4 linked regions of the Homo sapiens genome follow. The protein of the gene in region 1 purifies or fractionates together with the protein of each later gene. This does not show direct contact. Each region holds a gene or a part of one and is shown in the gene's direction. Other genes may lie near its edges. The genes, in order: FOXD4L6, KIAA0232, HSPBAP1 and LRP1B.

The links.
Region 2: the proteins of FOXD4L6 (region 1) and KIAA0232 purify together in Homo sapiens (affinity purification with mass spectrometry; 3 studies listed by BioGRID and IntAct, with this or other methods). This does not show direct contact.
Region 3: the proteins of FOXD4L6 (region 1) and HSPBAP1 purify together in Homo sapiens (affinity purification with mass spectrometry; 3 studies listed by BioGRID and IntAct, with this or other methods). This does not show direct contact.
Region 4: the proteins of FOXD4L6 (region 1) and LRP1B purify together in Homo sapiens (affinity purification with mass spectrometry; 3 studies listed by BioGRID and IntAct, with this or other methods). This does not show direct contact.

What each region holds. Positions count from the first base shown.
Region 1 is NC_000009.12:41,125,911-41,133,108, reverse strand, and holds FOXD4L6 (forkhead box protein D4-like 6), read left to right. Parts: upstream 1-4,427; 5' UTR 4,428-4,725; coding exon 4,726-5,979; 3' UTR 5,980-6,674; downstream 6,675-7,198. Other genes in the region: ZNG1F (zinc-regulated GTPase metalloprotein activator 1F), read left to right, coding at 752-881, 1,269-1,375.
Region 2 is NC_000004.12:6,778,078-6,785,726, forward strand, and holds the start of KIAA0232 (uncharacterized protein KIAA0232), read left to right. Parts: upstream 1-4,649; 5' UTR 4,650-4,764; intron 4,765-5,698; exon of another isoform or gene 5,699-7,484; intron 7,485-7,649.
Region 3 is NC_000003.12:122,790,821-122,797,911, reverse strand, and holds the start of HSPBAP1 (HSPB1-associated protein 1), read left to right. Parts: upstream 1-4,080; 5' UTR 4,081-4,231; coding exon 4,232-4,295; exon of another isoform or gene 4,296-7,091. Other genes in the region: SLC49A4 (solute carrier family 49 member 4), read right to left, coding at 2,377-2,719. UniProt on the Homo sapiens protein: May play a role in cellular stress response.
Region 4 is NC_000002.12:142,121,004-142,128,028, reverse strand, and holds part of LRP1B (low-density lipoprotein receptor-related protein 1B precursor), read left to right. Parts: intron 1-7,025. UniProt on the Homo sapiens protein: Potential cell surface proteins that bind and internalize ligands in the process of receptor-mediated endocytosis.

The sequences.
Region 1 (7,198 bases):
ACCCACTCACATTACTTGATATTTGGGTATTTAAGTCATGAAAGGTATTTCTTCTAGGAAGCAGTGATTCTAAAGTGTATGCTTAACCAGTCAGTTGAGTGTCTACTCTTGTGTGTTCACAAGTGTGCACAAAGTTTTTGGTAAATTAAGAATATTATTTCAAATAAATTAATTTCATCCCCATAGGAGCCAGTTTATCAGATAATTCGTTTCTCATTTCTGCAAATCAATACACAATGAGCTCATATTCAGATAAATTGAGCTCATATCCAGATAAATATAATAGTTTTTCTTTATTTCAACATTGTTCATTGATTGCAACCCATTTCTAAAACAAATTATTTAATATAACCAAACTCCTTTAACTTCTCAACTTTTCCCACTAAAACTGTGAAACATTATATAAAATCTTTAATCAATAGGATATGATACATATTTCATCATTTTGTTTCAGGTTTTGGTTGTGATAAATAACACTGAAAAACCATCCTAATATATGTATTAACTTTATCATTAGAAAAGGGGATTGTTCAAAAAAAAAATCAATACACAGAAACCTTTTTTGAAAATTAAAAACATTAAGAAACTTCTTGTAATTCACAAATAATTGGAATTAAGTAATTTTCTCAGCTTAAGAGTTTGTATTTTTTAAGTGAATATCAGTAATTAATCCATTAACATTGATGCTCTATTTCTGCTTTTAAGTTTGAACTGAGGCTGATTAATGTTCAGTCAATTCTCCTTTGAGCAGGGATTGGTGTCAATCAAAGACAAATCACAACAAGTGATTGTCCAGGGTGTCCATGAGCTCTGTGATCTGGAGGAGACTCCAGTGAGCTGGAAGGATGACACTGAGAGAACAAATCGATTGGTCCTCATTGGTAAGTCTCAAAGGATTCACAGTTTTGAAACAAAGTGAAAAATATATTTGAAAGGGATATCATGTGCCACTTAAACAGATTAACCATTCAGGTCCTCTTTTAAAACTAAATAAGCTTGTGGTCAATGTTTCATCTTTGTCACGTTACAATGTTCGTAAAAGCTTGTTAGGACTTTTGTTCTTCTTCAATTTTAGAAAAGTGGTTAATCCAAGGACCAATGTGACTTTGATGTACTGACCTGGAAAGTTAAAGATGGAATCACTCAATTACTATTCTTTTTGTAAATTTTTAAACACCATAAAGCATTTAATGAACTGGAATTGATAGGTGAACTGTGTCATTTTAATAAGCATAATGTAATCACGTCATATTTTGTTTTGTTTGCAGGCAGAAATTTAGATAAGGATATCCTTAAACAGCTGTTTATAGCTACTGTGACAGAAACAGAAAAGCAGTGGACAACACATTTCAAAGAAGATCAAGTTTGTACATAACACTAGAGGCATTTCTTATCAAAAGGATTGGATAATAAAAATAAGTTTCTACTGGGTATATTTCAAGCATTTATTTATTACTTTAGTTACGAATTCCAATATACTTTAAAATGGTATTTGTTTTACAGCATACATAAAATGTAGCAAATCAGTACTGTAAAACATTTAACATTCATACAATTATATACAATATCCTTTTTTTTAAAGAATGGTATTTCACAAAAATATCTTTTGAAATTGGCTTTGGAGTTTACATATACTGAACATGAAAGTTTATAATAATGATGATACAACTTTCAACATTGTCATTTTTTCTTAGAACTTCAGCTGATTGCAGAGATATAATGATTACATTGTTATTAAATTTTTTTAACACAAGTAAGTGTCACCATTTTATGACATGAAATAAAAGGTTATGACTGTTATTGATGTTGATGTTGACGACCTGATCACCTGGCTGAAGGAGTGTTTGTCAGGTTTCTGCATTGTAAAGTTACTCTTCTCCCCCATTTCATACTGTGCTCTTTGGAAGGAAATCACTATGCACAGCCCACACTAAAGGAATGGGGAGTTGTAGTGTACTTTCTTGGGAGTGGTCTACATAATTAATTGAAATTCTTCTGCAAGGGACAGTTGTCCCTTTCGCTTTATTAGTTCGATCATTTATGTTTATCAGTGTGGACACATGAATATTTTATACTTTGGGTTACAATTTAATACTACTTTATTTTGTTGCTCAAATTATCCCAGCTTTGACCATTGGGAACTCTTTCCGTTATCTCCTGTTCCCCCCTTTGACATACCCCCATCAGTGTGGGTTTTGTGTTTTGTTTTTGAGCGCCTCCTTATTTTTCTCCTGTATTTTTAAATAACCCCAATCCCTATTGAAGCTGGCTCTAGGAAAACTAATACTCCCTTTCCCAGGTCATCCGATTCCTATGCTGATGGAGGAAATTTGCCTCACATGCTGGGGGGCGCTGGGGAGGAGGCGTCTGGGATTATGTGGTTGAATAAGACACCTGGCCTGGCCCTCCTGGAGCTTAGTTTAGTAGGTCACACAAGCAGTCATTGGTAAATTTGGGATTCAAACAAATCTGTTAGGCTCAAACCTGTCTGTTATTTGTCCTCCAAGCTTCATATAAACTGAGGAGCCTTAAAGGGTAAAAACTTCAGGAGCAGCAAAGTTTCAAAAAAAGATCAGCAAGAAAGCTCTTTTCCAGATTTTATCCTGAAGGCACTAGCTACTTTAAGCTATTTTTTATTATATTTTGCCCTTGCAGTTGGCGTTTGATTTCTCACTGAACATTCATTGTCATAATTATAGACACTATGTGACTATCAAGGGCATAATATTCTTTCATGCTGCATTTTTATTAGATGGCACCTCAAAGTTTTCCCAAGTAGGTGGGTTTTAAATTATGAATATATACCGTGGCATAGTATCTTACTTAGTATTTTAATAAGATTCTTATTTATATAACAAATTTTTTTTATTCCTCTGTAGTGCTACTTTAGTCTCTGAGCTAATTTTCATGAAGCCAATCTAAAAATCGTGTTACTTCTAAGGATGTGGAGGGAGTGAGATGAACAGTTGTGCTGTCATATTGCCCCTCCCCAGTGCAGATAGTGAATGAGGACCCACTGATTTAAAGGCAACACTGCAGCCCCTTCTTGCCTCATTGAAGTCCCAAGTTTTATTACAGTAAAAGCACTTAATGTTGACATTTCTGAAAGAATGAAGAGGCTGGGCATGGCGGCTCACGCCGGTAATCCCAGCACTTTAGGAGGCTGAGGCAAGCGGATCATGAGGTCAGGACATCGAGACCATCCTGGCTAACACGGTGAAACCCCGTCTCTACTAAAAATATTAGCCAGGCGTGGTGGCGAGCGCCTGTAGTCCCATCTACTTGGGAGGCTGAGGCAGGAGAATGGCGTGAACCCAGGAGGCGGAGCTTGCAGTGAGCTGAGATCGCCCCACTGCACTCCAGCCTGGGCGACAGAGCGACTCCGTCTCAAAAAAAAAAAAAGAAAAAAAAAAAAAAGAATGAAGAGCCAGAGCCAGGCATAGTGGCACGCCTGTAGTCCCACCTACTCAGGAGGCTGAGGCGGGAGGATCACTTGAGCCCAGGAATTCAAAGCCAGCCTGCGCAACATAGACCCTGTCTCTAAAAATGAATTGGTTATAAAGGATGAAGAAAGGAAGGAGGAAAGGGAGAGAGAGAAGCCCTTATAGAGTGGGTGCATTTCTTGTATGTGGGGCCACTTTGTAAGAACAGGATTTTTCAAACTGGGCCCATACTGGTATGTGTGAAATCAATTTAGTTGGTTATGGCCATTTTTTTTTAAAAGGAAATATCAGTGATCACTATAGTGTAAGTATATTGTTTCGTGAAACCCATCTTAGTTATGTATTATGTCTGTATGTGTGAGATTGTGATATAAAATGTATTTCTGTGGTTAAATATTCAAAGAAATTGGAGAACCATTGCTACAAGGGGACAGAGGACTCCGTGTGAGCTCTCCTGCCTTCCCTGAGTAAACTTACACAATTTAGTGCTGGGACATTTGAGCCTTTTCTGAAAATTTGAGTCAGGGAGAGCATCTTGAGGAGGTGGGAAGGAAGGTAGAAGGAGCAAAGCAACACCCCCCTGAAGCCTGGGAATATTGTCAGAACCTTAAATATAATTCAGCTCACCATTCTGGGTAAGGGCAGACTCTACCAATGAAAATGGGTGATTACCAGCTGTGAAACACAAAAACATACTTTTACGGTTACACATTCCTTTACAAACAACCGTGTACATTTCAGCCTCCTGCCCCACCATTTCTTTTCTCCAGGCGGGAAGGCTGCATGTTGAGGTGGTCATAGAATGTTGAGTATCATACTTTCCTACCTCGCTTTTATTTGCGCGGGTTTAAATGCGCCTTAACAGAACCCGTGCAAAGGCTTGCCAACTGTCTGGCTGCACCGGATGAGTAGAGCATCTTCCTTGGTGGCAGGTGGGTGCGAGGAGGAGGGGGCTGGGCTTTTCTCCGGACGGGTGTTTGCCCAGAAGACCATCATCCCTGGACTACGTTAGGAGGAAGTGGCACCGCTCCGAGGTAGGGGAAGAAGGGTTATAAAGGGGGGAGTCCACCACACATGGTCTTGAAGAAGCTTTTATAAAAGGCAAAGGCATCTTTGCCGGACGTTGTTGCAAAGGAGTAGAAACAAGCAGACGAAAACATCCCAAAGGGTAACCACTAGCGTTCCTGCTTCTTGCAACATTCATCCCAGGCTTCCAGCTCAGCCCGCCCCAGGCTAGGTGATCGGTCGCCACATCCCCTGCGACTGAAGCACCTGCTCCTCCATGAACCTGCCAAGAGCTGAGCGCCTTCGCTCCACACCGCAGCGCAGCCTCCGGGACTCCGATGGGGAAGACGGTAAAATCGATGTCCTGGGAGAGGAGGAAGATGAAGACGAGGTGGAAGACGAGGAGGAGGCGGCGAGCCAGCAGTTCCTAGAGCAGTCGCTCCAGCCGGGGCTGCAGGTGGCCCGGTGGGGCGGGGTTGCGCTTCCCCGAGAGCACATCGAGGGCGGCGGCGGCCCGAGCGACCCCTCAGAGTTTGGCACCAAGTTCAGGGCACCGCCAAGGTCTGCGGCGGCCTCTGAAGATGCCCGGCAGCCGGCAAAGCCCCCCTACTCGTACATCGCGCTCATCACCATGGCCATCCTGCAAAACCCGCACAAGCGCCTCACGCTCAGCGGCATCTGCGCCTTCATTAGTGGCCGCTTCCCCTACTACCGCCGCAAGTTCCCCGCCTGGCAGAACAGCATCCGCCACAACCTCTCGCTGAACGACTGCTTCGTTAAGATCCCCCGCGAGCCGGGCCACCCAGGCAAGGGCAACTACTGGAGCCTGGACCCCGCCTCCCAAGACATGTTCGACAATGGCAGCTTTCTCCGGCGTAGGAAGCGTTTCAAGCGCCACCAACTGACCCCGGGAGCCCACCTGCCCCACCCCTTCCCTCTACCTGCTGCACACGCCGCCCTGCACAACCCCCACCCAGGCCCTCTGCTTGGGGCCCCTGCCCCGCCGCAGCCAGTCCCGGGGGCCTACCCCAACACCGCCCCCGGGAGACGCCCTTACGCTCTGCTGCACCCGCATCCTCTTCGCTACCTACTGCTCTCGGCCCCCGTCTATGCCGGGGCACCGAAGAAAGCAGAAGGCGCGGCCCTGGCGACCCCGGCACCCTTCCCGTGCTGCAGCCCTCACTTGGTCCTCAGCCTTGGGAGGAGGGCAAGGGTCTGGCGTCGCCACCGGGAGGCGGATGCATCTCTTTCAGCATTGAGAGTATTATGCAAGGGGTCAGGGGAGCGGGTACAGGGGCTGCGCAGAGTTTGTCCCCGACCGCGTGGAGCTACTGCCACCTGCTCCAGCGACCATCAAGCCTGTTGCATCCCCAGACCGCTGCCCCTTTGCTGCAAGTGTCCGCCGCCGCCGCTGCTCGGACAATTTTGCAGCAATAGCAGCAGCATCAGGAGGAGGACTGCGCCAACGGCTGCGCTCCCACCAAGGGCGCGGTGCTGGGCGGGCACCTGTCGGCCTCGTCGGCCCTGCTGAGGTATCAGGCAGTGGCAGAGGGCTCTAGGCTGACATCGCTGGCTGCCCCTTTGGGCGGAGAGGGGACCTCACCAGTTTTTTTAGTATCGCCCACGCCCAGTTCCCTGGCCAACTCCGCAGGGCCCTCCTAGAGCCAGGTGGGAGTGGGGAGCGACCCGCAGCTGCTCACTTCACCTTGCGCGGCCCATTCAGGGCGTGTGCATCTGAATCCCGCTGGAGAGCAAACACGAACTTCTGTTCGCTGCAAAATGGTTAGAAAGAAACAGCTGGATTACGTTCCTCTAAAAACCACCTGAACGTAACCTTCGCAGGGCGTCAAGTCATCTTTTCTTGCCTTCGGTTGTGGCTTCTATGGCTGTCCCGATTTGCGCATTTCCTGGGGTACTATGAACGTGAGTGGGGTATTTTGTTCTGGCATTAAAAGAAAAACAAGCAAGCAAACAAAAACACAGCCTCCGATGCCAAACATGTTCCCCCTTCTTCACTTCCTTGGAGCTGGAAGTATTATTCCTAAGTCTAGTGCAAAATGCTTCTACTCTCTGTGTCTTCCTGATAGGGATGTTTAATGTAAGTAGGATATTAATTTCAGAACATTGATTTCTTATCTGTGTGTCTGACGTGCCATCTTTAATGTTAAAATTAAGGTGTTAAAATTAAGCCTAGTTATATAGACGAAATAAAATGCTAAGTCACTACACTACATCGTTTATTTTCTATTACATCTCATTCTTCCCTTTCTAAATGGAACTTTTTAAAACCTACGTTACTTTCCCTCAAACAATTTATTTTCACAATTCATATTTATTATAGATAGCAGAAGTAATCCATTTTAATATGGCCTTTAAAAATTCCAAATATTTGAGGTTGAAAATGTCCTGGCTTTTAAAATAGGAAATTTACTATTTATGAGACTTCTAAAAGAAAAGAATAGGAGGGCATGTAAATATATTCTCCATTTATTTTTCATCACCCCTCAACAAGCTGGAAAACCATTTGAGATCAATTTGGAATGTAGTGGCCAACATGTACTCAGAGAAAATAAAAGGCTATAAATTATATATATATATATATATTTTAAGCACTAGAATTTTCAAAACTTATTTCTTAAAAAAAAAACAACTCTGAAAAGACTTTGCAACTAGAAAGGTTTAAGTGTTACTCGGCGTCAGGGGACGGAGTGGGGGGAAACCAGACAAGAACGCCCATCATGAATTGCTCC
Region 2 (7,649 bases), on another chromosome or scaffold:
CTGCAAGGTCATCTCTGAAACAAATTCACCAGGTCGGTGCACTAGGACTCTAGCTCAGGCAGCCAGGGAGAGGGTGATGCTGTAAATAGAGCGATGAGGGAAGGGGCCCCTGTGTGGAAAGGCAGTGAGTCAGCCAGGAACATGCTGGGGGCTGGGGAGGGTCCCACCAGCAAGGCGGACAAGCCCAGGAGGCGGTTCTGGGCCTTGGAGAAAAGCTGGGGTAGGGGAGAGATATTAGGTGTCCTTCCATTTTCATGTTACTTAACAGCTACTGGAGTGGAGGAGACTGCCCTAGTGGTATGCAGAATGATAAGAAAGGAGGTATAAGAAAGGAGGGATAAGAAAGGAGGGAATGGGAGGGACAGAGGAAGAGGGGGTCCTGGAGATGGGCAGTCAGAGCTAAGTAGTGGGGGCTTCAAGGAGGGATGGTCGTGGGTGCTGGTATTTATTGAGTGTTTGCTGTGTGCCGGGTACCCTCTGTGTGGATTCACTTACCCCTTCACCGCAACCCTCTGAGGCAGATACTATTATTATTATGCCCACTTTACAGATGAGGAAACTGAGAGGCTAAGTAATTTACCCACATCAGTGAGCTAATCAGCCAGTGTGCTTAATCACCGTGCTCCCCTACTTCTGGTGACATTGCTGATGACGTTGTTGATTTTCCATGGACTGGGTGGAGGGATAGAAGTGAGGAACAAATTTGGAAGCAGGAGACAACCACACCTCTGATCTGGTTTGGCCCTACAGGGATAGGCAAGCGGAACAAGGCGTTATTCCTCTGTCTTTTCCTGCACTAGGAAGCCGAAACCCTCAGAAGGTCAGGGCCTTGCTCAAGGTCAGACCATGGGGCTATGCCAGAGGCTTGAACTCTCTTTAGGCCTGGAATGATGTTACTACCCCTAAGAGAGGAGAGCCACTGAGAGGAGAGGCTGTCAGAATGCGGGTGCAGGCCTGGGGTGGTTAAGAGAGAAGGCCATGATGTGGGCCACCTTGACTGACAGCATCTGAACTGAGATGCCTAGTTAGTATCCCAAGTGAGGGTCTTGGTCCCATGGGGAGGCAATGGGGAGATTATCTGGTCAGGGTTTTATCTTGGCCTCATTCATTTAAAAGTCATCTCAGGATGGATTTTAATGATACTGTGTGGCCCAGTAGCAAGCACAGGGCTAAAATGAAATCCTGGTGCTGCCTTTTAGTAGCAGTGTGGCCTGTGCAAGCCACCTAAGTCTCCAGAGAAGCCTTGGCTTCTGTGGCTGCAAAATGGGGATCATCTCTTCCCTGCCTGGTATTGTGGGAGTTAAGGACAATGTGAGCAAAGCACTTGGCATGCACCTGGGGGTCAGTAAACAGGAGCTGGCATTGCTCGTGTCAGGTGACAGGTGAGGATTTGTATATCATTTATCAAAGTGTAGCTTCATTGAAATTTTGTTTCTAAATCTCTCTCTCTCACACACACACACACACACACAGGCACAGAACAAAGGAGATTTTTGAAATCTTCCTGCCCAAGTCCCTTGTTGTGCAGATGGGGAAACTGAGGCCCAGAGAGGGAGATTATGTACCCAAGATCACAGAGTCGAAGAGGCCTGGCCCCTGCCTGCCGTCAGTCCGTGTGCCACACGACATCACAAAGCATCCCGGACCCAGCCTCATCCCTGCTGTTCACTAAGCATACACATTACACAATCACTGCCCCAGATGGCAGCTGCTAGAATCCTCGCTAGCATCGAACATCCAAGTCAGAGGGCACTCAGAGTCGTCAGCTTCCTCCAGCATTGCCTTACCCGGCTGTAGGGGTTAAAAAGCTGTGGCAGGTGCTCCTGAGACTAGAGAAATGAAATGAATGATCTCAGACATACACAGGAGACAATGGTTTCTTCTCAGAAAATGCTGAAGGGGGAGTCTACCGCCTCCACACCAACCCTGCCTTAACGCAGGAGTCCTCTGGCCTCATTTGCATTCCCTAGGGATCTTAGCCCACAAGAGGGAGAAAGCTACTGTTCTCCTGAGTTTAAGTTGGCTGATCTCTACCCGGGAGCCTGAAGGAAGGTCGTAGGCAGCGTGGCACACTACAGGGGGTAAGGGGCTCATGCAGAAGAGCCCTGTTCCTGATTGCTCAAGGGAAGGTGGGATTGTTTTCTCCCTGATGTGCACTCTGACTACATCACAGATGATAGTTCAGTCCTGCACCTACAAACTGGCAGGCTCCGTGCTGGGCTCTGGGCATATGAAAATAAGCACCACAGGCAAAATGCCTGCTCTTGTGAGATACAGGTCTTGAGTGAGGAGGCTGAGATGAATGAGGAAACAAACATACAAACGAGATGATCTCAGATACTGATAAGAGCTGTGAATAAAGAAACAAAATATAGCAGTGGCATCATGACTGGGAAGGTTGGCTACTCCAAACTGGGCATCTAGATGTCTCTGGGCAGGTGACATCGTAGCAGGGCCTTTAACAAGAAGGAACCAGCCACGCAGAGGTCTGGGGAGGGAGTTCCTCACAGAAATCAGCAGATGCAAAGGCCCTAAGGTTGGAGTCAGCTGAGACTCCTAGGATTTTTATCAAAATAATTTGGAGGACAGGAGGCTATTTTGTTAAGAAAACAAAGTAAACAAGACACTTTCTTTCCCTAATCTGTCATCTTTCCCCACCAGCTCCAAATCCTATTAATACAAGATAATTCCTACTTAAAAACCTCTTCTTCCAAGAAGTCTTCAGGTTCTACTAGTTCATGGTAGAACTAGTATAAAAACTGGTCTGTGGCAAAGTAATAAAAAAAAAGGTCAATAAACTCTGTGTGTGTGTGTGTGTGTGTGTGTGTCACTATACAGGTGCCAACCGTGTTTCCTTTCTTCAGAACTGAGATATACTGTTATTACTTTTCAAAAAATTTTGCTGTTAATACTCTTTTGTAAAATATGATGTAGATGACAGATATGTCACCAATGTAGCAAAAATCAAAAGCTGACCATCCTTTGCAAATCCCCCATACTTTGGTCTGTGAAATCCTGGAGCCTGGAGGCACCTGTGAACTAGGCTCTGAAGCTCTGCTACTCTCCCCTCCTCTACTCCCAAGTGGCCCTGGATTTCCCATACCCTTTCCATTCTCGACACTGTTTTTAGAGTTTGAGTTCCAGGAGCACAGGGACTGTGCGTTCCCGGCACTGAGCCAGGTCCACAACAAGCACTCAGAAGAAACTGACTGAATGAACGTGTGATTTATGACGATATACATTCACCTGAGCGAATGCTCAGAGAATACAATTAGAAGCAAACTGGTTAAGGGAGACAGTAGTGTAAAGGAAACGAAACCCCATATTTCAGAGCCAGGAGCCTGGGTTCACATTCTGTCTCCTGCAAGAGGTGGTTTAGCAAGGTCAGAAGGCCCTGTCCACTCGGTAGCAGCCAGGCTTGGGTGAAATCACTTTCTTTCAGCCTCAGCTTCCTCACCAGTTAAATGCGGATGACAAAGATTTGTCCCACGATTTTTGTAAAGAACAAAAAGATATGTTCGCAGAAAAAACACTCTGTAGATAGTACGTAAGCGACAGTTCCTCGGTTTGTCCTTCCATGGATGCATGGAGCATCTAGCCAACTCAGCAGATGACCCCTCTCCAGTGTTTCAGCATCTGCTTCTCCCACAAGCCCGTGAGCTGGTGCAGGAAATTCTCCAACAGGTTCTGAACAGAAAAGCATAGTGCCTGGCACCTAGTGGGTGCTGCATAAATGAACAAATGACCCCAGGTAAGTCACTCCTCCCATTGGACCTCTTTCTTCTAAGTAATCTCCCTTCCTTTTCCAGGTCCATGATACTTATTTGCTTTTTTAGAACAGGCCTAGGAGTCACATTTAGGGAAGGTAGGTGGCTGTGAAGACACTTTGATTAAAAGGTTAATGCACATTTTTGGTTTCCACTTTCGAAGCTTCCAGAATTTATTTTTGCCTAGTTAATAAAAAAAGAGCCATGTCACATTTCTTTAGCTTGTCTTCTGGGTTCCTTAACAACAACAACAAAAAATTAAAGTCTTTATTTTAAGCCGCCTACTCCAGCCATCCCAGGACGCGGCGAGGAGGGGGCGCGGACAGGTGGCGCGCGAGCCCGGGAAGGCGGGGGCTGCACCGGGCCGCGGGCGGGGCCGTGCACGCCGAGCCCCACTTCCCCAGCGCGGGCCGGGGGCGGGGCGCGGCGGCAGAGTTCGGGGGCTTCTGCCGAGGGCAGTCCCACGTGCCCCTCCGCGGGAGACGTCTCCTCTCCGACGCCCAGCACGCTGGGGGGCTCCCGCTTCCTGCCTGCCCTCTCTACTGCTTGCCCTCTCACCTCCCAGCGGCTTCCGCCGCCCCGGCCAAGCTGCACGGCGCGTCCCGGGCCCTAGACCCCCACCCGCCAGGCACCAGCCCCGGCCTGTCCCCTCGCGCCGTCAGCCCGCGGCCCACCGCCCGCGCGCGCCCGCAGCCCAGCCGGAGGGAGGGGCAGGGGCGGGGACCGGCCGGCGCTGATGTAATCCCGGCACCCGGGCGGAAGGATATGGAGCGCGCCCCTGGTTGGCGGGGCGCTGAGGCCAGTTGCCGGGTAACGGAGCGGAGCGGCTCCCGGCGCGCCGCCTCCCGCCCTCCGCGGAGTGGCGCTGGGGCCGCCGCCGCCGCTTTACGTAAGGCGCAGGCCAGGGCCGCCCGGCGCTCGGCAGCCGCCCGCAGCCCCTCGGAGCCAGAGGAGAGGCGCCCCCGCCGGCCGCCGCGCCGCCCGGCAGCCTCGGCAGGTACTGCGGGCAGGCGGCGGGGAGGGAGGGCGCGGAGCAGCCCCTCGGCCGGGTGGGCGCGGGCCGGGGAGGCCGGACGCTCGCCGCCGTGGGGCTCCGGGGCCAGCCCGAGGGAGGCCGGGCCGCAGCCGAAGGCTTCGGGGTCAGCCCAAGGGAGACAGGGCCGCCGCCGTGGGCTCTGGGGCCAGCCTAAGGGAGGCCGAGCCGCCGCCGAGGGCTCCGGGGCCAGCCTGAGGGAGACCGGGCCGCCGCCGGGGGCTCCGGGGCCAGCCTGAGGGAGGCCGGGCCGCCGCTGATGGCTCCGGGGCCAGCCTAAGGGAGACCGGGCCGCTGTTGATGGCTCCGGGGCCAGCCGAGGGAGGCCTGACCGGCCCCGATCCTGGTGGTGCCCGGGCGTGCGGGTGAGCTGTGGGCCCTGGGACCCCCGCCCCGACCCCAGGACGCCGGGACACCAGCTTGCGGCTCTTGCGCCCGGGTGGGCTGTGGACGATGAGTCCGCACAATGGGTTGCCGTTGGCTGCCTCCTGCCTGGGGCAGGTGTCGCCGCGCCGGGGCGGCTCTTCTAGGGGAGACGAGGCGGGGGTGCTTAGACTTGATAGGACGTAGAGCCCCGAAAGTGGGCGCGGGAGGAAGGCTTCGGCCGGTGGGAGGCGCCCGGCGTCCCCGGCAGCGGGGTCAGGCCGGCAGCCTGGGCCGCTCGCTCGCGTTCCCTCCGTTCCCCTCCCCTCCAGCATTGTCCTTTTGGGGCCCCGGGAAGGGAAAACCGCCGGGCGGGGGAGGAGGGCCGCAGGCGGGCGGGGCCGGGAGGCCGGCTGAGCGACTGGCGCGCCGGCCTATGGCGCGGGGCGCGGCGCGGGGGGCGGGCCTGGCGGGCGGGGCCGGTGCGGCGCAAGGTTTGGCGAAGGTTACAGCTGGAGCTAGGAGTGACAGGCCCACAGTCATCCGTGCGCTGCGCGGCAAACCCTGTCGCGAGGGCGCCCCGAGTTGCTGCGGGGCCTGATCCGGCTCCTTTCCAACAATACGCGTCTGCAGCCGGCATTTCTAGAGCTCTCTGCTTCTTCCCGCTGGAGAAACCAGTGTGTGTCGTGTTGGAATGCTTCGTCTTGCCCTAGAATTCAGCTTGCGTCTTGTGGTGCGCAGGTGACAGGACCTGCCGAACTCTTGGTACAGACCCCTAAATCATGGCAGAACTGTCTTGATTTCTTTTTTGCCACCTTTCCGTTTTTGTCCTCTATAGGCAAGCTATAAAGATTTAACCCAGTTAAAAACAGGAGGGAGATTCAGCGGAGAGGAGGCATGCGAGATTCTTTGGAAAAAATTATATAAATGTAGTTCTTGCTAATAATTACCTGGGTTGGATACTTTGACTTACTGTTCAAGTTCCTAAGAAGGGATTTTACATTTCTGGGTCTTGTTTTAAAAACTGTTAGAAAGCTCGTGAGGGGGTAGGGACAAGCAGTTTTGGTAATAGGCGATGCTGTGGATAAAACTGTGCGGTAAAATGCCCAAGCTAGATTCTTCCTATGCAAAATAAGACCCGTTCCAGAACACTTTGACCATTTCGTGGACTTAGAATTTAAAGGCGGGTGAGGGCGGGGGGGGAGGAGGAGCGGATTCTATCACTCTGCATCCTCAAGGTCAAATATTCTTCCATCAGTTATTTTGGATTGAACCATTCTTAAATAGGTCTCAGGATCTCTATGTCGCTTCCTTATGACAGAACCTATTTCCGAGAGTGTGCCTTTGCATATCTATAGAAGCTCCTTTCACTTAATATATCTTATAACTCAGATTCAATTGCTGTACTTGCTAAATAATGCATTTTTAATCATTCAAAAAGTGGTTTACAGCTTCCTTGGGTATAATGGTTTTTATGTAAGCCCGTTACATCAGTGAAATGCCAGTTTTTAAACATTGAAGGGAAGGGAGAATATTATTCTTATTTATTTCCATAGGAAGTAGAATTCAAAGTGCAGGTGCTTTTTTGTTTGCTTTGGAGAAAAAGTATAGGTCTTTAACATGACGTTAACAGAAGTCAAATCTAAGGATAATTAGCTTGTTATGCAAGTTGCAAACATTTAAGAAGATCAGATGAATTTTTTTTTTTTTTTTTTTTGAGACGGAGTCTCGCTCTGCCGCCCAGGCTGGAGTCCGCGATCTCGGCTCACTCACTGCAACCTCCGCCCGCCGGGTACAAGCGAGTCTCCTGCCTCAACCTCCCGAGTAGCTGGGACTACAGGTGCATGCCACCACCCCCGGCTAATTTTTTGCATTTTTAGTAGAGATGGGGCTTCACCGTGTTAGCCAGGATGGTCTTTCTCTCCTGACCTCGTGATCCGCCTGCCTCAGCCTCCCAAAGTGCTGGGATTACAGGCGTGAGCCACCGCGCCTGGCTGATTAGATGGATTTTTAACACTTCCAGTGGTAATATAGGGTAATGTAGCTAGCCTACTCTGTGCTATGTTGTACGGTAGCACTCTTCAAAAGAAATTAGATTGTTCTTGTTCTTTATTTTTCATTGTGTGGAAAAGTGCTGAGCCTGCGCTTTGTCCTTGTTTTTGTAGCATTTGACTTGGCAGTTAATGGCTTGTGAGCTAATTTCCTCATCTGTAGAATGGGAAGATTGATGACACCTGTTTCACAGAATAGTTGGGATGATCACTTGAGGGAAGACGTGAAATGTCGTCAAGACTCAAACCCTTTAAAAATACTCGCCTAGTGTAAGTGTTAAAACCTCAGATTACTTGCTTTGCTTAAAGTTTTTAACTTTGTCTTCAGGCTCCTCGCCACCCCTTCCTATCCATTCTTTGCCTGGCTGCCAGAGTCATCTTTCCTGAGCTCAGATCTTGTCAGTCTCTGGCTCAGTAGGCTTCTAAGACTGCCTG
Region 3 (7,091 bases), on another chromosome or scaffold:
CTTCCTGGGCTCAACTGATCCTCCAGCCTCAGCCTCCCCAGTAACTAAGACTACAGGCGCATGCCAACATGTCTGGCTAATTTTTGTATTTTTTGTAGATTTGGAGTTTCACCATGTTGCCCAGGCTGGTCTCTAACTCCTGGGCTCAAGTGACCCACCCGCCTCAGCCTCCCAAAGTGCTGAGATTACAAACATGAGCCACTGAGCCCAGCAGAAACCCAGAGAAAATCAATATTTAGTTTAAAAGCAAACAACAATAACCCAAAGAAAATCTCCCTTTGGTAGGAGAAGCCCTTCTTCGGCATCTAGCACACATCCTCTGCAAAAGTATTTGCTCTAGCTGGAAGTTCTACAGCAGTCAAGACACACCCATTCAGGGCTGGGTATCTTTGTTAGAAGGTTCTTCCTTGTATTGCTTTGAGTTACATTTCTTTGTAACTTGACTCAGTCTAGTTCTTCCTCCTAGAACAACACATAAGTCGAATTCCTCTTTGACTTGATCTTCACATAGTCTATATCTTGCCTCAAGTTTCTTTTTGAAGTGTGATACACACAAGTTCCCTTCATTTTACACATCATGATTTTTATACCCTTTATCATTCTTGTCGCAGAACCTTTAAAGTTCTGCAGTTTGTCAAATGGCCTTCTCAGAATCAAGCTCAGAACTAAACACTAATGTAGAGCCTATCAAACTATTTTGCTTCTTGTTTTGGACACTATGTTTCTATGCCTAAACTGTCCTTTCTTTTTTAGCAGCTACATTATATTGTTGATCATTAAGGAATTCACAATCAACTATTCCTTAGTCTTTTTCACATGGATTCCAATGAAGGAATTCCAGTGAAGGAGGAGAGAAGGAAGTATAACTACTAACATCACCCTGCTATTCTATTCTCTTAATAACCAACTAATTTTGAGTGCTAACTACATGCCAGACAATTGCAATTCTATACCTACCTACACTTGACTTTTGCTGAGGTCTGAATGTGTTCCCCTCAAATTCATATTTTGTTTATGTATTAATTTTTCTGAGACGAGTCTTGCCCTGTTGACCAGGGCAGAGTGCAGTGGTGCCATCACAGCTCACTCCAGCTTCGACCTCCTGAGCTCAAGCAATCCTCCCACCCCAGCCTCCCAACGTGCTGGGATTACTTGAGCCACTGCGCCAGGCCTCAAATTCACATTTTGAAATCTTAACCCTCAAAATGATGGAATAAGAAGGTGCAGCCTTTGGAAGGTGATTAGGTTATGAGGGTGGAACCCATGTGAATAGGATTACTGCCCGTATAAAACAGACCTCAGAGGGATTCCCTAACCCCTTCTTCCATCTTATGTTATAGTGAAGAGACCACTGTGTAGGAAGCAGGCCCTCACCCGACACCGATTCTGCCTGAGCCTTCATCTTGGACTTCCCAGCCTCCAGAACTGTGAGAAATAAATTTCTGTGTTTATGAACTACCCAGTTTATGGTATTTTGTTATAGCAGCTCCAGTGGACTAAGACAACCTTCCAAATCTGACTAAAGAACTCATTGCAACAAAACTTATAAAAGGTTGAACAGAAACTGTACAAAGTAGCTCCCAGGCATTATTCAATTAATAAATATAAAATCTTGCACAACAGCCTCTTGAGGGTAGACTGTCACTACTAATCATTTATCCATACTTATGTGGTAAGTATGCCTTGATTCTCAGCCCTATGGCTTTTTCTTCTCAGAGAATCACACTGGCAAGTGGTAAAGTGAGATGTCCAGGGTACCATTCTAAGCAAGCATCTTCACTCATCTGCAAGCTTTAATTGAAAGTCACAAATCTCAACTGAGAAAGCCATCTAGTCACATACACACATTTTAAAGCTGCCGAGCACCACCTTCCAGAAACCAAAGTGTCAGATCTGAGTTTCCCAATAGCTCTTCCTGGGCTGGAGTCATCTATTACACAAAACGAACTCATTATTTCCTTACATATGGGCACCGTCAATCTATTTTCCGACCTTTCATCCTCAACATCCCCATATCCCTTTGAAGTCAAAGCATCAGTCATTTTTGTCAGGTGTAAAACACATACACCGCACGTGCACGGGGATGCTCTGATGTTCACAATGTGTAAAAACTTGAACGTTTAGAGATCGCTTAAATCCCTGGTGTTGCATAAAGGGCCTTGATAAAAAACATAAATATTTGCAAGGTTGCCTTTCCATATTTGTCGCTTTGGGGACGGAGGGTTCCTAAGTCAGAAATGGAATGCTAGCAACACTCTATCACCTCACACAACCCCTATGCCGGGGCCAAGGGAGGCGGCTGGCAGGCCTGGAGCGCGGGCAGGCGCCTGCTCCCGGAGGAGAGACAGCGCGGGCTGGCGCTCCGCGACCCCTCACCTCTCTTGTCCAGGAGCCACATGAACGCGAAGCAGGGCAGGAAGCCGATGGGCCCCCACAGCACGAGCAGCGCGATGTCCCAGCTGGAGAAGCCGTAGGCCTGGCGCGCCGAGTTCTGGATGGGACCCCAGGTGTTCCAGACCAGGCCCTGAACGAACGCCAGCAGCGAGAAGAGCAGCAGCACCAGCCAGCGGCGCCCGTATACCCGCCCGGGACCCGGGACCGCCGCGGGCAGCGCCGCCGCCGCCGCCTCCCGGCTTCTCCAGGAGGCCCCCAGCCCAGGCCCGAGCCCGGGCCCCAGCAGCGGCTGCCTCTCCTCTTCGCTGCTCCAGCGAGAGCCCATGGCGACGCGTCGCCCGCGAAGCCACTGCCGGGCGCAGTCCGGGTCACCGCCGACTAGCCCAGCGCAGAATAGTCCTGAGCAGCAGGAGGCGGAGGCTGCTGTGGTCGCCCTCGGCCTCCGGACCGCGCCTGGTGCGCCTGCGCGGCCCGAGCCGGGCCGGCGGGGAGGCGGGGAGGCGGGGCAGGCGGCAAGGAGGCTGGGGTCCGCCCTCCCCTCCGCGGGTGGCGAGGAAACACCGGCGAGAGGAAAGGAGCCAGGTCCCAGACGGAGGGCAGGTAGCGCTGAAAAGGCAGGGACCAGCGCGGCTGAGTCGGGGAGAGGGAAACTCCCAGAGAGGCTGTATTCGAGGAGGTTGGGCAAGGAACCCTGGGGTGTTTGGAGGAAGTGTCCAAGTTAAATCTTGTGCCTAATAAACAACTCAGTGACCTGTTAAGTGACGTCAGTTAACCTGATGCTTGCTTCTATTTTGGGCTTATTCTCATTTTTGTTGAGTTAGTAACTTCAGAAATTATAGGCGAAGGATAAAGTTTAAGCGTAGTTGGTCCCAGGGGATTATCTCATAAAAATCATTTCTTACGTGCAATAAGTACTACCTATTTTTGTTACTTTTTTGTCTTACATATCCAAAGAGGAGATTCCAAACTAGCCAATTTCATTCATATATATGTAAACTTTACCCATTTCGCCTGCCAATAGGCGAGCAATAAAGGTATGTCCAGTAAAGTTGGAAGATTTTTGCCCCAAAGATCCATCTCCAGTGATTATGATTTGACCACAGGGTAAACGAGAAGAAAGGTGGTTGTTGATCTCTTCACACAGCTGTTTGTTTATTTTGGTATACAAATTCAGAAGCCTGACAGCTGTGGATTAGTGTCCTTGAAAACCTAAAGTCAAGCAATTTGGCTTGTCTGGATCGGGAAATGAGTCACAGGGAACGCAATCACAGGATTCTTTGCCCGAGGTTCGTATTTCCCGGCAGCCACTAAAATCAGAAGGAGTCAGGTTACCACCAGAAGGGCAAGAGAGGTGTAAGAGAAGCGTGAGCTAGCCTCGCATTCCAGGCTGCCAAGAGCGGCTCGCGAAAGCTCACGGCAGAGACCCATCCCACCGCCGGAGCCCCACTAAGCGGCAAACCTTCCCCTAAAACTCCAATCCTTTAGGGTGGAGAAAAGCCGAGGTGGAAAGGAAGGATCTGACTAGAAAAGGAGAAACAGAAACGAAGCTAAGACTACAATAAAGAACGCTAAGGTCCGGGTTAGGTAAAAAGCGCCACAACTCAGACCACGTGTTTGTATTTCCACACCCGGGGTATCAAAACAAAGCTGCGTGGTCCCGCCCAGCATCCGTCACGTGACCTCCACGTGAGAGCCGGCGTTTCCGTAGGAGCCGGGCGGGAGTCGCCGGGGCTCCTTCCTGTGGTGCAGCTTCGGGTCTCGGAGTTTGGCCCCTACTCTGACCCCACCCCAGCTCCGCTCCGCCTTGGGTTCCGGCAGAACCCGCCTTGCGGTAGCCATGGCAGCAGGCTCCGAGGCGACCACTCCTGTGATCGTTGCGGCTGGGGCTGGAGGGGAGGAAGGTAGGTGCCAGGCTGAGGTCCGACCCTGAGTACAAACCCAATGCCAGTTGACTCTCGTGGCACCCCTCGTGGGGCCGTTTGCCTTAGCCCCAACCCAGGTCTCTCTGGCCTTGCATTAGACTATGAAGAAAAATCTATATTTTCTAGTGAGCGTGGCATTTCTCGAATTGTGGCATCCAGATTTTTGATCGTCGTAGGGTAGCCTACGAGTGCTGTTTCACGCATGGGGTGTTATTTTTGTTTTGTTTTGTTTTATATTTGCCCATCATTAGCTAAATAGAGGTGTTTTGAACGTTTAGAGGGGATTAAAATTAAATTTGTGAAATTGAAGGCAACCTTTGAGATTAATGGAAGTTATCTGAGACTTTTGTGAACAGGGATTATGCGCTTTTATTCTATTTCAGTGAACCCTGGTTTAGCAAGTGGGGATGAGGTTTGGAGGCCCATGAGCCTGAGATCCCTGTTATTATTTATTGAATGATTGCACCGTGCAGGGCTGTGTTCTGAATACTGTCGCAGGATCCAGAGACTTTTGAATATTTATAACAATACCTTTTCCAAAGGAGCCTAGAAAGGAAAAAGAATGACTTACTATGTGGTCACCTGAACTATTCTACCAGTAGTACACTCTGTGAGGGTTGTTAGGAGGAGGGATCTCAGTGGGGAGAACATAAATGCTTCAAGGAGCGAATAGTTTGAGGTCGGCCTTTCTTTTTCTTTTCTCTCTTTTTTTTTTTTTCTTTTTTTGAGACGGAGTCTCGCTCTGTCACCAGGCTGGAGTGCAGTGGCGCGATTTTGGCTCACTGCAACCTCCACCTCCCAGGTTCAAGCAATTCTTCTGCCTCAGCGTCCCAAGCAGCTGGGACTACAAGCGTGCCACCACGCCCAGCTAATTTTTGTATTTTTAGTAGAGACGGGGTTTCACCATGTTGGCCAGGATGGTCTCGCTCTCTTGACCTTGTGATCCGCTGAGGTGGGCCTTTCTGATTGGATGAGATGGTGACAAACTCAGGGAGTGGTGCTGGGGTTCAGGAAGTCAGGGAGCAGAAAAGGATGGATGTATTTAGGGGTCAAACAGTTTGCTGAAGGGGGAGATGCCCATTCCAAGCAGAAGAAACAAATTATAGCCTCCTACTATCTGACCACTTTCTACCAGGGAGACAATTCTTGACCTTCATCTATACCTCCATTGCATTGATCTTTCCATTTTCTATCCACTGCACCCCCTTATCCAGAATGTATGTCGTTCCTTTGAAAAATTCTCTTGTCCCTTCCTGCACTTTTTTCTGACAAAACTCTTACTCTGGATGAAGTCAACCTTTTGCCCTCTTTGTACCTGCACCCGTGGGCCTGAACTTTGCTGGAAAAAGTCCTGCACAAACTGATGACCGTATAAAGTGAAAATGGCCAAACTCTTGAATATTCAGTCAGTATGGGCTTGAGATCCCTCTGATCCTCTGTTTCTCTAGTGAGCCTGCTAACGTTCTCCAATGACAAATTCCCAAACTCTATAACCTCTCTCTGCCTCTTTCTTAATTTCAGGTAATGACTTTGCAAGTCAGGTCAATTCTGCATCTAATCTGTCTACTTTTTTCCTTTCACTATCAGACCGTACTTCAAATCATCCACATTTTCTCACCTCAACTACTACTGTATCTTCCTGACTGACTTGTGTCTCTGTTTTCTATTCTGTGCCCCTCTAATCCCTTCTCCACTCTGCAGCAAAAAGTGACTCTTCCTTATGTAAAATTCTTCAGCGAATTACATTGCCCTTAGAAGTTAGAATAAAACCCAGATTCTTAACCGTGGCCTGTAATAATCCTTGGTCTGGGCTCTGCTGATGTCTTTAGCAGGATCTCTTGTCACTCACCTCCCCTTTGGCTTTTCACATAGCTGGCTTAATCTTTAGCTTTTAAAGTATGTCACCACCTGAGACCTTACCAGATCAAACTATTTAAAACAGTCACTGTGATTTCTCTTGCACCCCCCAACCCTAGATGTTCTGGAATACAGCATCCTGCTTCTGTCATTTTACTTACTACAATCTGTAATTATTTATTATTTGTTTTTTCCATTAGATCATAAGTACCTTGAGGGCAGGACCTATGTCTGTTTCATTCTCTACCATGTGCCCAGCTGCTAGTACAATGCCAGGCACATAGTTGGCACATGCCACATGTTTGTTGAGTGGATGAATAAGGGCACTCCATGCCAAGTCCAGAGGCAAAAGGAGAAAGCATGGCATGGTCCAAGAACTGAAAGAAGTTGGTGTCAGGAGTGGTAAGAAAAGAGGTATCCTGAAGGTTACCTTAGGCCTAGTTAAGGAATCTAGACATTAAGACAGTAGGAAGCCTTAAAGAGCTTTAGGTGAGGGAAATAACATGATTAGATTTGGTTGTAGGAAGATCACTTTGGCTGAAGGGTAGAAGACCGATTGGAGGGAGAAAGACTGGAGGACAAGGTACTTAATCCCTTTGAGCCTCAGTTTCCTCCTCTGTAAAATGCATGATTATTGTGAAGATTAGAGTTAATATGTGTAGATTATCTAGCATAGTATCTGGCAGGAATTGGATATTCAAGAATCGTGACCATTTTTATTATTAATAGAAAGTGCCAGCCTTAGTAACTGATGTTGAAACTGAAAGAAAAGAAATTAGAGATGTTATGTAAGAGAATGAGAAAAATAAATACATTAAATAAAGTCAAGTGAAAGGGTCAGTATGTTCAGTACAATGATGAATACAATGGGAGTCATAGAAAAGTTCATTTTTAAAATTTTTGGTTTATTTTTTATTT
Region 4 (7,025 bases), on another chromosome or scaffold:
CACATCTTAAAAAGGAAACATCTTTGTAACTCTTAACAGCCAAAATTGGAAGATAAATCAGATTCACTTAGAATCAACTAATTTGTCATATAACAATGTCATATCATATCAAAGTATTGCTTGATAAGGATTAAAACTTAAAAGGAAGTATATCTTAAAGTGTCAAATTTTCTGAAAAGGGATTGAGAGGCCTAATGCTAGTCTGTGTTAAATTCTCGAGTATGATACAATGTGGAGACACATTTCCAAATAATTAAAGTTCATGCTGTTATAGTCATTTTAATGTATCTGTATAGAAAACCATCAAACAATGGCAATTAAATGTATATCAAAATTTTAATCTCCCCTCAAAGAAGAATGAACTGCGATTTATGTCTCTTCATATGCCACAAATAACATTAAAGTTTTGTTTTGAAGAGGTTGCTAATCTTTGAATTTGTTCTCTTTCTCTCTTCTCAAGCTCAAATTTAAACTGAGTGAGAGAGAAAAGAGAAAATGGAAAAGGTAAAGAAAGAATTTAAATGTGCTAAAACAATAAGAAAGAATGTGAATTGCAGAAAACAGAATTCAGGAGGAAAAATGGAGTTAAGAGAAAGCTGAAGATAAATTTAGGAAAAAGATGAATGGATGGATGGATGGATGGATGGATGGATGGATGGATTCTGCCATACATCAGAATCTGAATCAGTATTTCTTGAATAGGTTAAAATATCTTTAGACAAAATAATTTCTTAAAATGTTTTTATCTCATTATTAAAAACATTATATGAAAATATTTACAGTATAAAAATAATTTAAGGAAAGTGCCACCAGTGTGAATCTGAATATAATTAGACCTCTAAGAATGGAGAGAGACATGAGAATATTGCAGAAAAATTAAATATTAACTGTGCTAGAATTACAAATATGGAAGTGATTTTTTAAAAATGTAAGTGAAGGTAAAGGAAATTTTCTTAGAAAGGGTGCTAGATGAGTGATATGGTTAATGTATTCTTAGGACTTAGATGACACTTTCTAAATGCTGCTTGTTTTTCAAGGTGGAGGTATGCAGAAATACTTAGTTTGCAAATCTATTGGATCCAGGACATTAGTTTCTTGCCAGTTACCTTGTCAATTTCTTTTCTCAGCCCAGGGGATACCATAAAAATCAGCTCCATTTAAAGTCACCTGAACTGAACAGGACTTGGTCTTCTACAAGGATTATGATGTTGAGGGAACTTTATGTCTTTTCTCCATTCTATATATGGATCCAGTTTTTTATGTTTCTGCCATTAATTTTTGTATCTTAATGTGAAATGTGCAACTCTCCCTCCCTTTCCTTCAGCATTTTCCTGGTTATAGGAATTCTGTGTAGTAAAAAGTACCAATCAAACATACTGATAGATTTCTCTATCTTCTGTGGCTGTCTGTCAAAACAATTCTTGTACAAAGGAAACACTTGTCTTCATTCTAGATAGATGCATTCAAAGAAAGTAGAATTAATCCTAAAAGTTAAACATGCCTGTGCCAACATGATATCATTCGTCAAACTAAGTTAGTAGTAAGTGGAACCCAACTATACAATTGCCCCCAACCCCGTTTTTAATCTCTCTCTGTGTGTGTTTATGTGTGTCTGTATATCTGCTTTAAAATGGCTTTCCTTGGCACAAACGCCATTAAAAATACCACTCTGGCTTGAAAATTGGTGATGGTTTTTATGAATGAAACTTTTGCTTTTGAAAACTCCAGATAAACATGTCTATTTATCTGGACAAAAAAAAAAGTGAAATGAAAAAAATTTTAAGTTATTTTTTGACTCATAGCATATAATATTCTAATACATTTCGATATAACAAGTATTTTGTTTTAACAGAATCTGACTGTGTGGCAGAAACACGTGTCAAAATTATCTGCTTTTGAAATGAATATAATTATGGTATACCCAATGCTTATAATTTGAAGCAATACATTTAGTAGCAGAATGCTAAAGAAAATAAAGCCAAAGACTGAGTTCCATTATGAATTAATCAGAATATATGCTCAGCCAAACTCCTATGAGAAAATATCTATGTCTACCTTAGATAGTTTTAAAACTTTTCTTAAATTTCTTCAAGAAACCTGGCTTCCCCCATATAATCCAAGAATAATGACCAAAACTATCTTGATGCATAGAAAGGTCAAATAAGAAGGTTTTTCTTTTGGTTTTGGCAGAGGAGGGGGGAGAGTAGGGAAAATTAGCTAATCAAACAGAAAAATGTCAAGGGATGCTTTTTATTTTCTTCTGTGGAGTTGCTATACATTTTCACATGGATAGCTATTCCCAAATTTAACCTGTGTCACAAACCATTGTCTAGAGACATAGAAATGAAATTGCAACAGAGCAATCACAAATTGTATAGTCTATAGGCCTTGGGAACATTCTCCAGTTATTTTATTTTGGATGGAGATTTTTAAAACTTATTAGTTTTTTGGGATAAAATATTATTTAAACAGTAAATAAGACAAAAAATGAAAATATCTCTAAAAATAATTTGAGTTTTTAAAAGTTGGTTTTTGGACTAATTTCCATATGTGAGTTCCACTGGCACAGAATGAGTGTCTTTACCTCACTCACTCAATTTTGAAAAGTATTATACTTGCAATAGTATTGAATCTCTGTTCTGGCTCTTCAGTCCTCTCTCATTTGAATAACATGTCAATCTCACCAAGTACATATGAACCCTCTATTTTAGAGAAAGGAGAATGAAGGATTCAGGAGATTCTGCCATTCAGCACAACAAGTAAGCTTACATCTTCCAAATGTATATGCTGTTTTTTTTCTGTTTGTCTTCTATAATCTGCCCTCACAATTTTAAATCTATATTTTCCTCTTCATAAATGATCAGATGGCCTCCCTTTTTCCCCTGGCATAATTACAAGGCCAAGTTAGAAAGTATGTATTATGTATTGCTCTGTTCTAAATTGAGTGATATTAAAATGTAGAGTCAGTCTCACTCTCTCCATCTCTCTTTCTCTCCATCCTTTCTATTTAGGCTATCTCTATACAAGCCCACATATTTTGACTGAGCTCCCTGACTAAACCAATTGATGAAACTGACTAGTAACTAAATGGAAATCAAAACTATTAAATAATAGCCATACATCCTGTAAAAAAAAAAAGTAAGACTGGTCTTGCAGGAAAAGCCTAAATTGAGATTCTATGAAGAAACAATAACAACAACATATTTCCCTGAAAGAATTATGCAACATATTTCTAGTTTGCAGAGCAAATCATATGTGCTTTTGCTGTTGTGTCTCTCATACTAGGCAAATGAAATATTTTTGGTAGTAACTACATATTTATATAATGGGGTATTATACAAGTTTAAAACACTATTAGAAAATAAATAAGTATTCTGAATTCATTTGTACTCAAAGAGAATTTACTATATTGAAAGTGGAAATTTATTATTTTTCTTTTTGTCTTTACTTTTTAACTGAATTTGTATTTCTCCATTTTGTGAAACATTAAAAAAAACTTAAATATATTCCAAAATGTGATTTCAAAGATTTTCTCTCAATAAAGAATATATATAGTGGAAATCATTCATAAATTGGACAACAGGATTAAATGCTCTTTTAAATATGACTATAATAATTTTCATATGCAGTCACATTAACTTAGTTTTAGTCTACAATTAGGTACCCAATTATGATTTTTAAAAATGCAATGGCATGAATAAATAAATGAGTATACCCATTTGTTGATCTTATTCCCTATTACTTCAAATTTGTAAGTATCCTTAGTGGAAAAGAGTAATGTTCATTTTGGAAATAATCATGTCTCAACATGATTGGGGTCTACTCAAGGGGGAGGGTGGGAGGAAGAAGAGGAGCAGAAAGGATAACTATTGGGCACTGGGCTTAACACCTGGGTGGTAAGATAATATGATCAACAAACCCTTGTTACACATGTTTACCTATGTAACAAACCTTCACATGTACCCCCAAATCTAAAATTAAAATTAAAAAAAACATGTTTTTCTGTTGTTCAATAACTCTACTCATATTTGTTTAATAATGATGTATTGTCTACATTTGGGATTTCTTCTTAAATATTGCAGAATAGTTGTAAATACGTAACGCTTTTCAAAGGTGTCTTTACCTTTAGAAAAGAAAGAAAATTAATTTTGATTAATACATTTGTACCACAGATCCATTTGTTTAATCTTATTTTTCTCAAATATAAGCTCGTATATAAAAGTTTCTCAGATATAAGCTTGTGTATTTAAAAGTTTCCATTTAAACATGAATAATATTATAACTATATCCTTTACAGAAGTTGAGAAAGTACCTTTTCATATACAATTTCTTCCAACTTTGTTAAGAGAAAAATAACCAAAAAAAAAAAAAAACTTCTTGAAGAAGATAGATCATGTTGCCTTGCTAAGATACCGACATTACATTTCATCTCACAATACATTCTTATTAACAGTCAGACATCTCTTCCTGAGTTGCATACACCTCATTGTCCTGACTGGCTTAGCCTTCAGACCAAAGACAGGTATTGTTGAAACATGACCTCATTTTAGTCAAAAGAATATGTTTCTTCTTTAGGTAAGATCAAGGTACCACCTATCGTCTCTTGTTTTATTCTTGCAATCAATAGGACATCCCTTCCTAACTTTTCCACATTGCATTGACATCCTTCAAGATTTCCAAGACTGCTTAACTTTAGAAATACGAATATATAATTCCTTAAGAATTTTTCTACCGCTGAGTTTTTCTTTAATGACGATTTGTCATCTTAGCCCTTTCTTCTTAAAATGAGAAAAGATAACTAACAATGAGTTTTGGGGAGAAATGAAACTTAGTTATGGTTGCTTTGTGTGTTCCTAGCATATCTTAAGATATTTGTGAGAAAGAAAAGCTGTAGGTGTAATGCTGATAACCGAAATGTGTTTAGAATCATCTGTTTTCTTTTGAAACTAGGATGTGTAAGGAAAGGAAGAAAAACAATGCCAAGAAAGAGAACTTTGATAGTCAGAATTTATTGAAGCTTCTGTCCACTACTGCTCAGATCAAGTAGCTGAGCTAATTAGAACCTTAAACTTTTGCTAAAATAGATATTATAGAGATTTAAAAATGATTCAGTTTTTAGATTATCTAAGACATTTTGTGCATTTCCAAAGCTTTTAATGGTATATTTTTATTGGGACAAAAATGTTAGAATAGCAAGTGTGCTTTATTGAAATATTCCACTTTATCCAACTCTATTAACTTTTAAGGCATTTTTTTCATGACTAAGATCTGGAAGTACAGTGATAATGACACCACCTCGTGAGTGAGATTCTTGCCTCATCAGGTGAAAGCACTACAGATTGTGCCCACTGGGCATCCATATTTTTGAGATTTTCATTAAGCATAATAACTACATCAGATTTGTAGATGGAATTACTAACTCAGAATTCAGGCACTCTTGCTGAGCGCCCTTGTATTGATGTCATTTCTAACACAAAGACTAGCAGTTCAGGAGCACTATATTGATGTCCTGTAATACAACAGCACACTAATCTTATTTGCAAGAAAATTTGATGACTATCCAACATGATCAACATTTAGAATATCTAAATCTAAATGTTGAATTTAGATATACTAAATATATCAGATATTCAGAACTTAAACCTTCTTCTTTGTCCGTTGTTGTATTACACTCAATTCTACAGTTCCTTCTCCTAGCACGTTTTCTTCCTATTTTCACTTGCTAGTGATCTTGTCAAATATTTAGAAATTAATCTTGACAGTGAAAGAACCAACATCTTAGCACATTTTGACTTCCTTTGCTATTCTCATTGCTAGGAGAACATAAAGTAATGAAGGGCATGAGGGTTTTACCTTGTGTGTATTTTCATCTGGGTGTCTATGAAAACACCACCAGAGTTTTACAGAAAATTGCTCCGACCCATTCTGAGAAGATAAACATAGCTATGACCCTAACGTTCTGTGAGTGCACAGAGTGTAATGTCTGTGAAAACACATCGTATCATGTATTGCATTACATAAATACCTATTATTTTATTAATTATATTAATTGCTTAATATGAGTTACTAATAGCAAGAAGCTCTTTACATTTTCAGCATACCTTCGCTTTTCATTCAAATTTTTTTTTTCTTGCTGAATCACATGATCCTTGAAGCAACTCATATAGTTGGTGATCACTCATGTGTTTATTCACTCATTTGACAAAGATGAGCAAATAAGTGGTAATCACTATTTTACGTGGTTGGAATGAAGCAAGTGAACAAGGTAGACAATGTAACTGGGCTGATAGGGCTTTAGTGCAAGAGGAGACAGAAACAGCAAACAAATAAATAAATAACATCCTTGCTAAAAAGAAAGAAAAATAATGTAATGTGACTGAGGACAATGCAATTGGGAGTCGTAGTTATAATCGCAGAAGGCCTTGTTGAGTAAGTGACATATTTGGTAAAACTAAGTGACGAGAGGGGACAAGCTCTGAGTCATCTAGAGGGAGGAATTTTCTATGCAACCCTTGAGAGGAAGTTGTGATTTTGGTATTTTAAAGAAAGCAGGTCACTTTGTCTGAAATAAACTGTGTGTGTTTGGGAGAGAACAGAAGTAGAGAAAGCCATATTTACAGTGAAGTCAGATTAGGTCAGGTAGGGTCATGCAGATCAAATTGAGGCATTTGGGTTTGGTTCTGATTTTGAGCAGCTACTGGCTGTCTAATCAGAGGTGAAAATGATGCAACTTACTTTTTAAAGAGATCATGCTTGGTCTGAAAAGAAGGACAAGAAGGGAAATGATGAATCCAGTTCAGGGATTATCAAATTCATCCTGGAAAAGATGTTGATGGCTTGAATGAGGGAGTAGTAGTGGCAATAACGACAAGCTACAACAGAGATTTGCATTTTTAGTTTAGAAAGATTTTCTATAAGAACGAATGCAGCACCATTCTATGTATTAGGGAGGATAGGCATGAAATAAAGCCGCAAAAGATAATCTTTGGGGGAAAGGGTTAATATTCTAATCAGATAATAAATTA